Linked DNA regions of Homo sapiens: region 2 is linked to region 1. Evidence: fine-mapped expression QTL. A gene starts in region 1. The other region holds a variant in brackets. All regions are shown on one strand. Distances are from middle to middle. Region 1 holds the start of NBDY (negative regulator of P-body association). Region 2 has its middle 99 kb from the start of KLF8.

Region 1 (5,380 bases):
AGGCTCCAGCATATAAAATAAATATACAAAAATATCAATCATGTTCCCATTTACTAGAAACAATTAGAAAATGTAGTTAAAAAGATGATATATTTCACAGTAATAATAGAAACTATAAGTACAAGTGAATCTAACAAAACATTTCTTCAGATTACACTATTATTATGAATATGTTTTCATATAATGTAGAATATAGTTTCAATTTTATCATTTGCTGCTATCTTTTTGAGTTTTGTTTGGCTACTTTTTAATGTGTCAAAACCAACTCTTTTTTTTCTCTTCCTCCTCTTAATAATTTTTGGTAAAGAGATTACCTTAAAAAGCACAACTTCCAGGTTCAGGACACCAGAAAAAGCAGGGTAGCATTGTAAATAATCTTCATTGTTTTCACCAGGTGAACTATTATATGAATGCACCAGGGAAATGGAGTCATACTGCAATCACTCAAAGACTGAAAAATAGTAAAAAATATTGTGGCATCATTTTTTCTGTTTTTGTCCATCTCTTTGTCCCTTGGTCTCCTCAAATCATTATCCTTCCCATACCTCTATTTCAATGATTTATTCCTATAAAACAGTTGTATACATAGTATTAGAAGGGATGTATTATATAGAAGTTTAGAGCATAAACTCTGGAATCAGGTGTTCTGGGTTCAAAGCTCAGCTCAGCTACTTCTTGCTGTGTAACTTGTGGCAAGTCATACAACTTCCCTTGGTCTATACAAACTTCTCTAGTAGAGTTGTGATTAAATAAATTATAACATGCAAAGCCCTTTAGAAAATTGGCACATAAATCTTCAGTAAATATTGGCTATTATTACAATTATCAGTGATTTGAATCACTTGGAGGGGAAATTATGTAGCTACTGCACTTATTGTTTTGTTCTTTTGTTTTCTTTTCTTTTTCCTTTTTATTTTTTAAAATTATTTATTTATTTATTTTTTACACCGAGTCCCGGTCTGTCGCCCAGGCTGGAGTGCAGTGGCATGATCTCGGCTCACTGCAATCTCTGCCTCCTGGATTCAAGCGATTCTCCTAATTCAGCGTCCCGAGTAGCTGGGATTATAGGCACACAACACCATGACCGGCTATTTTTTTTTTTTTTTTTTTTACTTTTAGTAGAGATGGGGTTTCGCCATATTGGCCAGGCTGGTCTCGAACTCCTGACCTTAGGTGATCTGCCCACCTCAGCGGCACAAAGTGCTGGGATTACAGGCGTGAGCCACTGCGCCCGGCTGCTCTTTTGTTTTCTATCTGAGCAATTTTCTCCCTACTCCCTGCAACCTTCCACTCCACTACCCCTTTGAATAGAGGTAAACATGTGAGAAGTAAAACTGTATGGAATGACAGGGAGATGCTTTCAAGTAAAATAGATTTCTATTTTTTTTTTTCTATGCATTACCACCAAACCCAATGTCTAAAACTTTTTTGGTCGCCAAAGTTGTCCCATCATTCATTGATTTATTTATTGAAATATCTGTTTCACTCCTATTATGTACTAGGCACTATGCCTTGGCCATCCATCCCCTACAGCTCTCAGAATAATTCCTACCCATTGCAAGGGCTTCATAAAGGTTTACTGCACGAATGAAGAAAAGATGCTTCTCTCCTTTGAATTAAAAGGATCTATAAAACTTGGGTCAGATTCAGTTTTATAATTTGCATTCTATAAAGTTCATCTAAATATCAGAGATTCCTTTTCTGATAGTAAGAATAGGAATCTTAAAATACAAATAGTAGCACTTGATGGATATTGGAATGAAGTATATGCTCAGCATAACATTTAAGGCCCTGAAGCACTTTATCTTCACCTCCTAGTCCTTCTTGTAGATTCAAAATTATAGCCAAGCTGTTTCCAGAAGAATTCTGCCTTTTCTCTGGAAACCCTCGGCCTGAAAAGCATTCCCTGCCCCTCCACATGGCAGATGTCACTCAACCTTTAAGGCCCACCCAAAGTTCCTCCTTCCTTTTTTTTTTTTTTTTTTTTTTTTTTTTTTTTTGAGACGTAGTTTTTTGCTATTGTCGCCCAGGCTGGAGAGCAATGGCGCGATCTCGGCTCACTGCAACCTCTGCCTTCCAGGTTCAAATGATTGTCCTGCCTTAGCCTCCCGAGTTGCTGAGATTACAGGCGTCCACCATCACGCCTGGCTAATTTTTGTAACTTTAGTAGAGACGGGGTTTCACCGTGTTGGCCACGCTGGTCTCGAACTCCTGACCTGATCTGCTCACCTCGGCATCCCAAAGTGCTAGGATAATAGGCGTGAGCCACCGCGTCCGCCCCCCTACTCCTCCTTTTTGATGGCTCATGATTACTACCAGGCAGTGACTTGGTCCATCCTCCACCCTTCCTGAATACCTTGAACAAGCAAACATTATGGCACTTGGATTTGACTATCACATTGTAGCTTTAAAAAAAAAAATTCAACTCTCCTGCCTTACACAGAGAAAGACATACACTTCTGAAGGCTGGCCTTCAACAGATGCTTTTTATTGGCCTTGAACCAGCCTTTTTTTTTTTAACAAAAAAATTTTCCAATGCACGCAAAAGTAGAGAGAATAATATAATAAATCCCTACATATACATCACCCAGCTTTAAATTATCAACTCATGAGCATTTTTATTACACTTTCCCTCCACCTTGGCACCAATGACTTACTTTCAAGCAAATCAAAAGATTCAAGTCTATTTCTTAGAAAATATAACTACAATTATTTCATCTAAAATATTACAAATAATTATTTAATGTCGTTAAATATCCATCATTTCATTCAAGCATATTTTGTGAAAGAGCTGCTTAATCCCTGCATGTTATTTTTTCTATTTTGAAATCATGGAAAGAACAGGGAAAAGGGGAAGGAAATTTGTGAGAATGCATAAATAAGTTTCAAAGAGCCTAGATGTCCTAGATGAGAAAGAATCTGACCTGGTTTAGGGTGGGAGAAATTTATTTCTCTACTTCTCCGGAGGAGGAGGGTGCGACTTCAGGCCGGCTGATGCAGGAGGAGGTGCGGAGGGTAGAGTGGTACTACCTCCGTTGGGAGTTCCTTCCGGATAATCCCAACGCGGAGCGAGGAGGCAGCGCTTTTTTGGAGGCTTGGCTTCCCGTGCGTTTCCAGGTGGGAGAGTGGATCTCCCGGAGGCACAAGGTTGGTCTCCCATAAGGATTACAGAAACGGGTCGTCAGTTTTCTCCGGTGGGCCCTGGCAAAGCCAAGAGACCTGAGATGGCGGCGAGTCCCCTCCAGGCACAGAGCTGGCTTCCTCCTGTTTCGCTCTTACCGTATTTCCTGTATCCTGAGACGTACATCCCTTCTCCGCCTCCACCCCTCCTCCCTACCCCATTCTATTTTAATGTTTCTATTAGGATGGGTGTTAAAAACCGATGTCGTTATTTAATATAGTGTTTTTCCATCGCGCCCCACCCCCACTAAATGTAAATAAATTTATTGAGAATTTAATATAATTTATGCAATTTTAAGATGAGAAGAAATTCAAGTTTACCTTTAAGTGGTAAACTCTGAATGGCTTATATGTGTGGGAGGGACGCGGGGGTGGGCGGTAACCAAATAAATTATTGAAGAGCTTTACAAGCCAGCTGCAGATGCACATCACAGAGCTGTGAAACTAGCTACAAACATTTAAAAAGCAATATGCAAACATGTAAGTTGACTAGAGTGCAGAATAGCACACTAGCACAAACCATGGAAATTGAATGTGGAAAATGAATTCACCGTATGTCATAGAATCTAAGATCATTTTTTCTTTATTTTTTAAGCAAATTTGTAATTTTTGAAGGCTTATTATGTTTTTCCCCAAATTTGAATATCTAGGAAATCTCTGCGACCTAACAATTGATGGTACACTATACTTTAGTTGGCAGCTTTTTTTTTTCTTTCTTGTAGGTATGGAAAATAATGACCCATCTTACTAGTGATGATATGTTATATTCTATGATTTATGGTAACCAGAAGAAAGTACCACGTGTCTCAGAAGAAAAGGCTTCTGGAACTTCTTAGACCTTCATTATTAAAATAGCCTACACATCCATCTCCCTTTAGCTATGGACAAACTAGATCACACTTCTTCAGCTTTGTTCTCAGTGCTTTTTGTTTGTTTTTTGTTTTTTTAAATGGAGAGAGCTTAGTCCTTAATGCCAGAGTAGAAGTGCCTGTTAAACTCTGCTGTTTACAAGCTCTGAGCTCTTTGAGTAATTATTTAAATTCTTGGAACTTTGGTTTCTAGGCCATAATTTTTTCCTTGCAAAGGTGTTTCCATAACCAGGGATAATACATGTAAAGCATTTACTACTATAACTATCTCTTATCTCCACCCTTCTACCTTCCTCCAAGTAACCAGCACAGCCCTTTACACAAATTAGGTACTCAGTAAATATTTGGGAAATAAATGACCCCGTGGTTTTGTGCCAAATGCTACTAATAAAGACAGAAAAGTCAGATGTAGCTGTAGCTTAATGAAAAGATGTGAGGGAGGCATTGAGAGAGGCAATATTTTAGAGCTAGAAGAGTAGTTGGAACTAGACATACTGATGTGGGAGACAGCAACATAGAGGTGATAGTTAAAGACAAGGGAATGGATTATATCCCCAAGAGAAAATCTAAAGGAAAAATAATTGAGCTAAAAACAGAATATTGAGTAATTAGAGACAGATAGAAGAAAAGAAGTCTGCTGCAAAGGCTGAGAAAGAGTGGTCAAAGTCAGCGAAGAAGATTCTAACCCAGAGTTTCTCAATCTTGGTGCTATTGACATTTGAGGCCAAATCAATCTTTGTAGTGGTTGCCAGAGTTTACCGTTTAGCAATGTCCTAAGCTAAGCCTCTACCAACTATATGCCAGTACTACTCCCTACTCCTCAAGTTGTGATAACCAAAAAGATTTCCAAACATTGCCAGATGTCCCCTCGGGTACACAATTGTCCCCAGTTGAGAACCATTGGTCTATCCTTAATCCACCAAATTTGCTCCTTTCCTAGTTTTTTTTTTCTTTCATCTCAGTGAAATGTTATGCCTTCCACTCAGATATACAAGTCAAACTTTGGAGTCTTTATTTTTAGAAACTGAAGAATATTTTATTATTTATTCAAGTAAATGAAGTAACAATTTCACAGTCTTTTTACATAGGTCTCTAAATCTTCACGACTAAAGACATTAAGAGTTGCAGTTAAGTCGTTCTATAGCTATAGTTTTAGCAAATTAAGAGAAATATGTGCCTCGTTAGTAAAGTAACAGGAATTAAAAATTTTATCAACTCCAGCTAGGTTTAATTTACGGTAAACATTTGACTTGAGGTGAAAACAGTCCCAACTTAGAGTTGCTTCTATCAACATTGACTATTTATACCACAATTAGATTTATTTATTTATT
Region 2 (5,380 bases), 400 kb after region 1:
ATAGCCTACAAACCCCCCAAAAATTTAAAAAGCCCAGGACCAGACGAATTTACAGTTCAATTTTACCAGAGTTAGGAAGAAGAGCTGGTACAATTTCTACTGAACAAACAAAACAAAACAATAAAAACCTAGGACCAGGTAGATTTAAAGCTGAACTCTACCAGAGGTAGAAAGAAGAGTTGGTATGATTTCTACTGAAAGTATTCTAAACAATTGATATGGAGGGACTCCTCCCTAACTCATTTTATGAGGCCAGCATCATTCTTACACCAAAACCTGGCAGAGATAAAAATAAAAATAAAAATAAAAACACTTCAGGCCAACATCCCTAATGAACATCAATGCAAAAATCGTCAATGAAATACTAGCAAACTGAATCCATCAACAAATCAAAAAGCATATCCACCACGAACAAATTGGCTTCATCCCCGGGATGCAAGGTTGGTTCAATATACACAAATCAATAAATGTAATTCATCAAATAAACAGAACTAAATACAAAAACCACATGATTATCTCAATAGATGCAGAAAAGGCCTTTGATAAAATTTAACATCCCTTTATGTTAAAAGGTCTCAATAAACTATGTATCTAAGGATCATACTGCAAAATAAAAGAGCCGTATATGACAAACCTATAGCCAATATCACACTAAATGGGCAAAACCTGGAAGCATTCTCCTTGAATACTGGCACGAGACAAGCATGCTGTCTCTCACCACTCTTATTCAACATGTTATTGGAAGTTCTGGCCAGAGCAATCAGGCAAGAGTAATAAATAAAGGGTATTCAAATAGTCAGAGAAGAAGCCAAATTGTCTTTGTTTGCAGATGACATGATTCTATATCTAGAAAACCACATCATCTCAGCCCAAAAGCTTCTTAGCCTGATAAGCAACTTCAGTAATGTCTCAGGGTACAAAATCAATGTTCAAAAATTGCGAGCATCTCTGTACACCAACAACAGGCAAGCAGAAAGCCAAATCATGAATGAATTCTCATTCATAATTGCTACGAAGAGAATAAAATACCTAGGAATACGGCTTACAAGAGAAGTGAAGGATCTCTTAAAGACAACTACAAACCACTGCTCAAGGAAATCAGAGAGGTCACAAACAAATGGAAAAACATTCCATGCTCTTGGATAGAAAGAATCAATACCATAAAAATGGCCATACTGTGCAAAGTAATTCATAGATTCAATGCTATTTCCACTAAAGTCCCATTAACATTTTTCACAGAATTAGAAAAAAATTATTTTAAAATTCATATGGAACCAAAAAAGCCCATATAGCCAAGACAATCCTAAGCAAAAAGGACAAAGCTGGAGGCATTATGCTACCCAACTTCAAACTATACTACAAGGCTACAGTAACCAAAATACCATGGTACTGGTACGAAAACAGACACAGACTAATGGAACATAATAGAGAACTCAGAAATAAGGCCACACACCTACAACGAAGTGATCTTTGACAAACCTGACAAAAACAAGCAATGGGGAAAGGACTACCTATTTAATAAGTGGCTCTGGGGAAACTTGCTAGCCATATGCAGAAAATTAAAAACTGGACTCCTCCTTAAACATTATACTAAAATTAACTCAAGATTGATTGAAGACTTACATGTAAAACCTGAAACTATAAAAACCCTAGAAGAAAATCTAGGTAATACCATTCAGGACATCAGCACAGGCAAAGATTTCATGATGAAAATGCTGAAAGCAATTGCAACAAAAGTAAAAATTGAAGAACGGGATCCAATGAAACTAAAGAGCTTCTGCACAGCAAGATAAGCTATCATCAGATGAACAGATAACCTACAGAATGGGAGAACACTTTTGCAATCTACCCATATGACAAAGCTCTAATATCCAGAGTCTACAAGGAGCTTAAAAATATTTCCAAGAAATTTGGAGGGGACAATTATACAAACCATATCAATGTATCTATAGTGTTGGTTGGATAAGGCACTTAGGCTTTGATTCTGGATGAACACAGTAGTAGAGTCTTCATATAATTTCTTCAGCTATAATCAGTGTCAGTGTTGTCTTGTGAGTTCCTCAGAGTTCCACAGCCCTCAGGCTGTGGCTGTTAGTGGAGTATGTAGTGAGGCTTTATCAGGGGAA[A/G]TTCAGCCAGATATTGGATGAAATTCACCCACGAAATAAAGGGTCAGAGTACAAAAAAGAGAAATTTTAAAGCTGGGTGTCTGGGGGAGACATCACAGGTCGGCAGGTTCTGTGATGCCCCCTGAGCCACAAAACCAGCAAGTTTTTATTAGTGATTTTCAAAATGGGAGGGAGAGTATGAATAGGGTGTGGGTCACAGAGATCACATGCTTCACAAGGTAATAGAATATCACAAGGCAAATGGAGGCAGAGAGAGATCACAGAACCAAAGGACCAGGGTGAAATTAAAATTGCTAATGAACTTTCGGGCATGAATTGTCATTGATAACATCTTATCAGGGTTTGAGAGCAGACAACCAGTACGACCAAAATTTATTAGGTGGGAATTTCCTCATCCTAATAAGACTGGAAGCACTATGGGAGACTGGGGATTATTTCATTGCTACAGTTTTGACCATAAAAGATGGCCACCCCTCAAAGTGGCCATGTTAGAGGCCTACCCTCAGGGACACATTCTCTGTCTCAGGGATGTTCCTTGCTGAGAAAAAGAATTAAGCGAGCCAAGATGGCTGAATAGGAACAGCTCCGGTCTAAAGCTCCCAGAGTGTGCGACACAGAAGATGGGTGATTTCTGCATTTCCATCTGAGGTACCGGGTTCATCTCACTAGGGAGTGCCAGACAGTGGGCGCAGGACAGTGGGTGCAGTGCAGCATGTGCGAGCTGAAGCAGGGGGAGGCATTGCCTCACTCGGGAAGCACAAGGGGTCAGGGAGTTCCCTTTCCTAGTCAAAGAAAGGGGTGACAGATGGCACCTGGAAAATCAGGTCACTCCCACCCCAATACTGTGCTTTTCTGATGGGCTTAAAAAACCGCACACCAGGAGATTATATCCCACACATGGCTCGGAGGGTCCTACACCCACGGAGTCCCACTGATTGCTAGCACAGCAGTCTGAGATCAAACTGCACGGAGGCAGCGAGGCTGGGGGAGGGGCGACTGCCATTATCCAGGCTTACTTAGGTAAACAAAGCAGCCAGGAAGGTCAAACTGGGTGGAGCCCACCACAGCTCAAGGAGGCCTACCTGCTTCTGTAGGTGCCACCTGTGGGGGCAGGGCACAGACAAACAAAAAGACAGCAATAACATCTGCAGATTTAAATGTCCCTCTCTGACAGCTTTGAAGGGAGCAGTGGTTCTCCCAGCATGCAGCTGGAGATCTGAGAACGGGCAGACTGCCTCCTCAAGTGGGTCCCTGACCCCTGACCCCTGAGCAGCCTAACTGGGAGGCACCCCCCAGTAGGGGCAGACTGACACCTCACACGGCCAGGTACTCCTCTGAGACAAAACTTCCAGAGGAATGATCAGAAAGAATCATTTGTGGTTCACAAAAATCTGCTGTTCTGCAGCCACTGCTGCTGGTACCCAGGCAAACAGAGTGTGGAGTGGACCACTAGCAAACTCCAACAGACCTGAAGCTGAGGGTCTTGACTGTAAGAAGGAAAACTAACAAACAGAAAGGACATCCACACCAAAAATCCATCTGTACATCACCATCATCAAAGACCAAAAGTAGATAAAACCACAAAGATGGGGAAAAAACACAGCAGAAAAACTGGAAACTCTAAAAAGCAGAGCACCTTTCCTCCTCCAAAGGAACGTAGCTCCTCATCAGCAATGGAACAAAGCTGGATGGAGAATGACTTTGATGAGATGAGAGAAGAAGGCTTCAGACGACCAAACTACTCTGAGCTACGGGAGGAAATTCAAACCAAAGGCAAAGAAGTTGAAAACTTTGAAAAAAATTTAGATGAATGTATAACTAGAATAACCAATACAGAGAAGCACTTAAAGTCGCTGATGGAGCTGAAAGCCAAGGCTCGAGAACTAAGTGAAGAATGCAGAATCCTCAGGAGCTGACACAATCAACCGGAAGAAAGGGTATCAGTGATGGAAGATGAAATGAATGAACTAAAGCAAGAAGGGAAGTTCAGAGAAAAAAGAATAAAAATAAATGAACAAAGCCTCCAAGAAATATGGGACTATGTGAAAAGACCAAATCTAGATCTGATTGGTGTATCTGAAAGTGACAGGGAGAATGGAACCAAGTTGGAAAACACTCTGCATAATATTATTCAGGAGAACTTCCCCAATCTAGCAAGGCAGGCCAACATTCAGATTCAGGAAATACAGAGAATGCCACAAAGATATTCCTCCAGAAGAGCAACTGCAAGACACATAATTGTCAGATTCACCAAAGTTGAAATGAAGGAAAAAATGTTAAGGGCAGCCAGAGAGAAAGGTCGGGTTACCCACAAAAGGAAGCCCATCAGACTAACAGCGGATCTCTTGGCAGAAACTCTACAAGCCAGAAGAGAGTGGGGGCCAATATTCAACATTCTTAAAGAAAAGAATTTTCAACCCAGAATTTCATATCCAGCCAAACTAAGCTTTAGAAGTGAAGGAGAAATAAAATCCTTTACGAACAAGCAAATGCTGAGAGATTTTGTCACCACCAGGCCTGCCCTAAAAGAGCTCCTGAAGGAAGCACTGAACATGGAAAGGAACAACCGGTACCAGCCAGCACAAAATCATGCCAAATTGTAAAGACCATCGAGGCTAGGAAGAAACTGCGTCAACTAACGAGCAAAATAACCAGCTAACATCATAATGACAGGATCAAATACACACATAATAATATTAACTTTAAATGTAAATGGAATAAATGCTCCAATTAAAAGACACAGACTGGCAAATTGGATAAAGAGTCAAGACCCATCAGTGTGCTGTATTCAGGAGACCCATCTCACGTGCAGAGACACACATAGGCTCAAAATAAAGGGATGGAGGAAGATCTACCAAGCAAATGGAAAACGGAAAAAGGCAGGGGTTGCAATCCTAGTCTCTGATAAAACAGACTTTAAACCTAGAAAGACCAAAAAAGAAAAAGAAGGTCATGACATAATGGTAAAGGGATCAATTCAAGAAGAAGAGCTAACTATCCTAAATATATATGCACCCAATACAGGAGCACCCAGATTCATAAAGCAAGTCCTGAGTAACGTACAAAGAGACTTAGACTCCCAGACAATAATAATGGGAGACTTTAACACCCCACTGTCAACATTAAACAGATCAACGAGACAGAAACTTAACAATGATATGCAGGAATTAAACTCAGCTCTGATCCAAGCAGACCTAATAGACATCTACAGAACTCTCCACAGCAAATCAACAGAGTATACATTTTTTTCAGTA

The links. PIP is the estimated chance that this variant, and not a neighbour inherited with it, causes the effect.
Region 2: its variant is the best candidate, but not a certain one, in a credible set for the expression of NBDY in whole blood (TOPMed, PIP 0.60).

The regions. Positions count from the first base shown.
Region 1 is chrX:56,727,134-56,732,513 of GRCh38, reverse strand. It overlaps NBDY (negative regulator of P-body association), which reads right to left and starts at 3,271. Exons shown (of 3, transcript NM_001348129.2): 1 at 2,925-3,271; 2 at 315-451. The coding sequence starts at 3,160. The coding sequence ends at 2,954. RefSeq lists an enhancer at 3,151-3,230.
Region 2 is chrX:56,328,445-56,333,824 of GRCh38, reverse strand. No RefSeq gene overlaps it. Among named protein-coding and RNA genes, the nearest start is that of KLF8, 99 kb to the right of the region's middle. The variant A/G (reference allele first, on the strand shown) is at 2,127.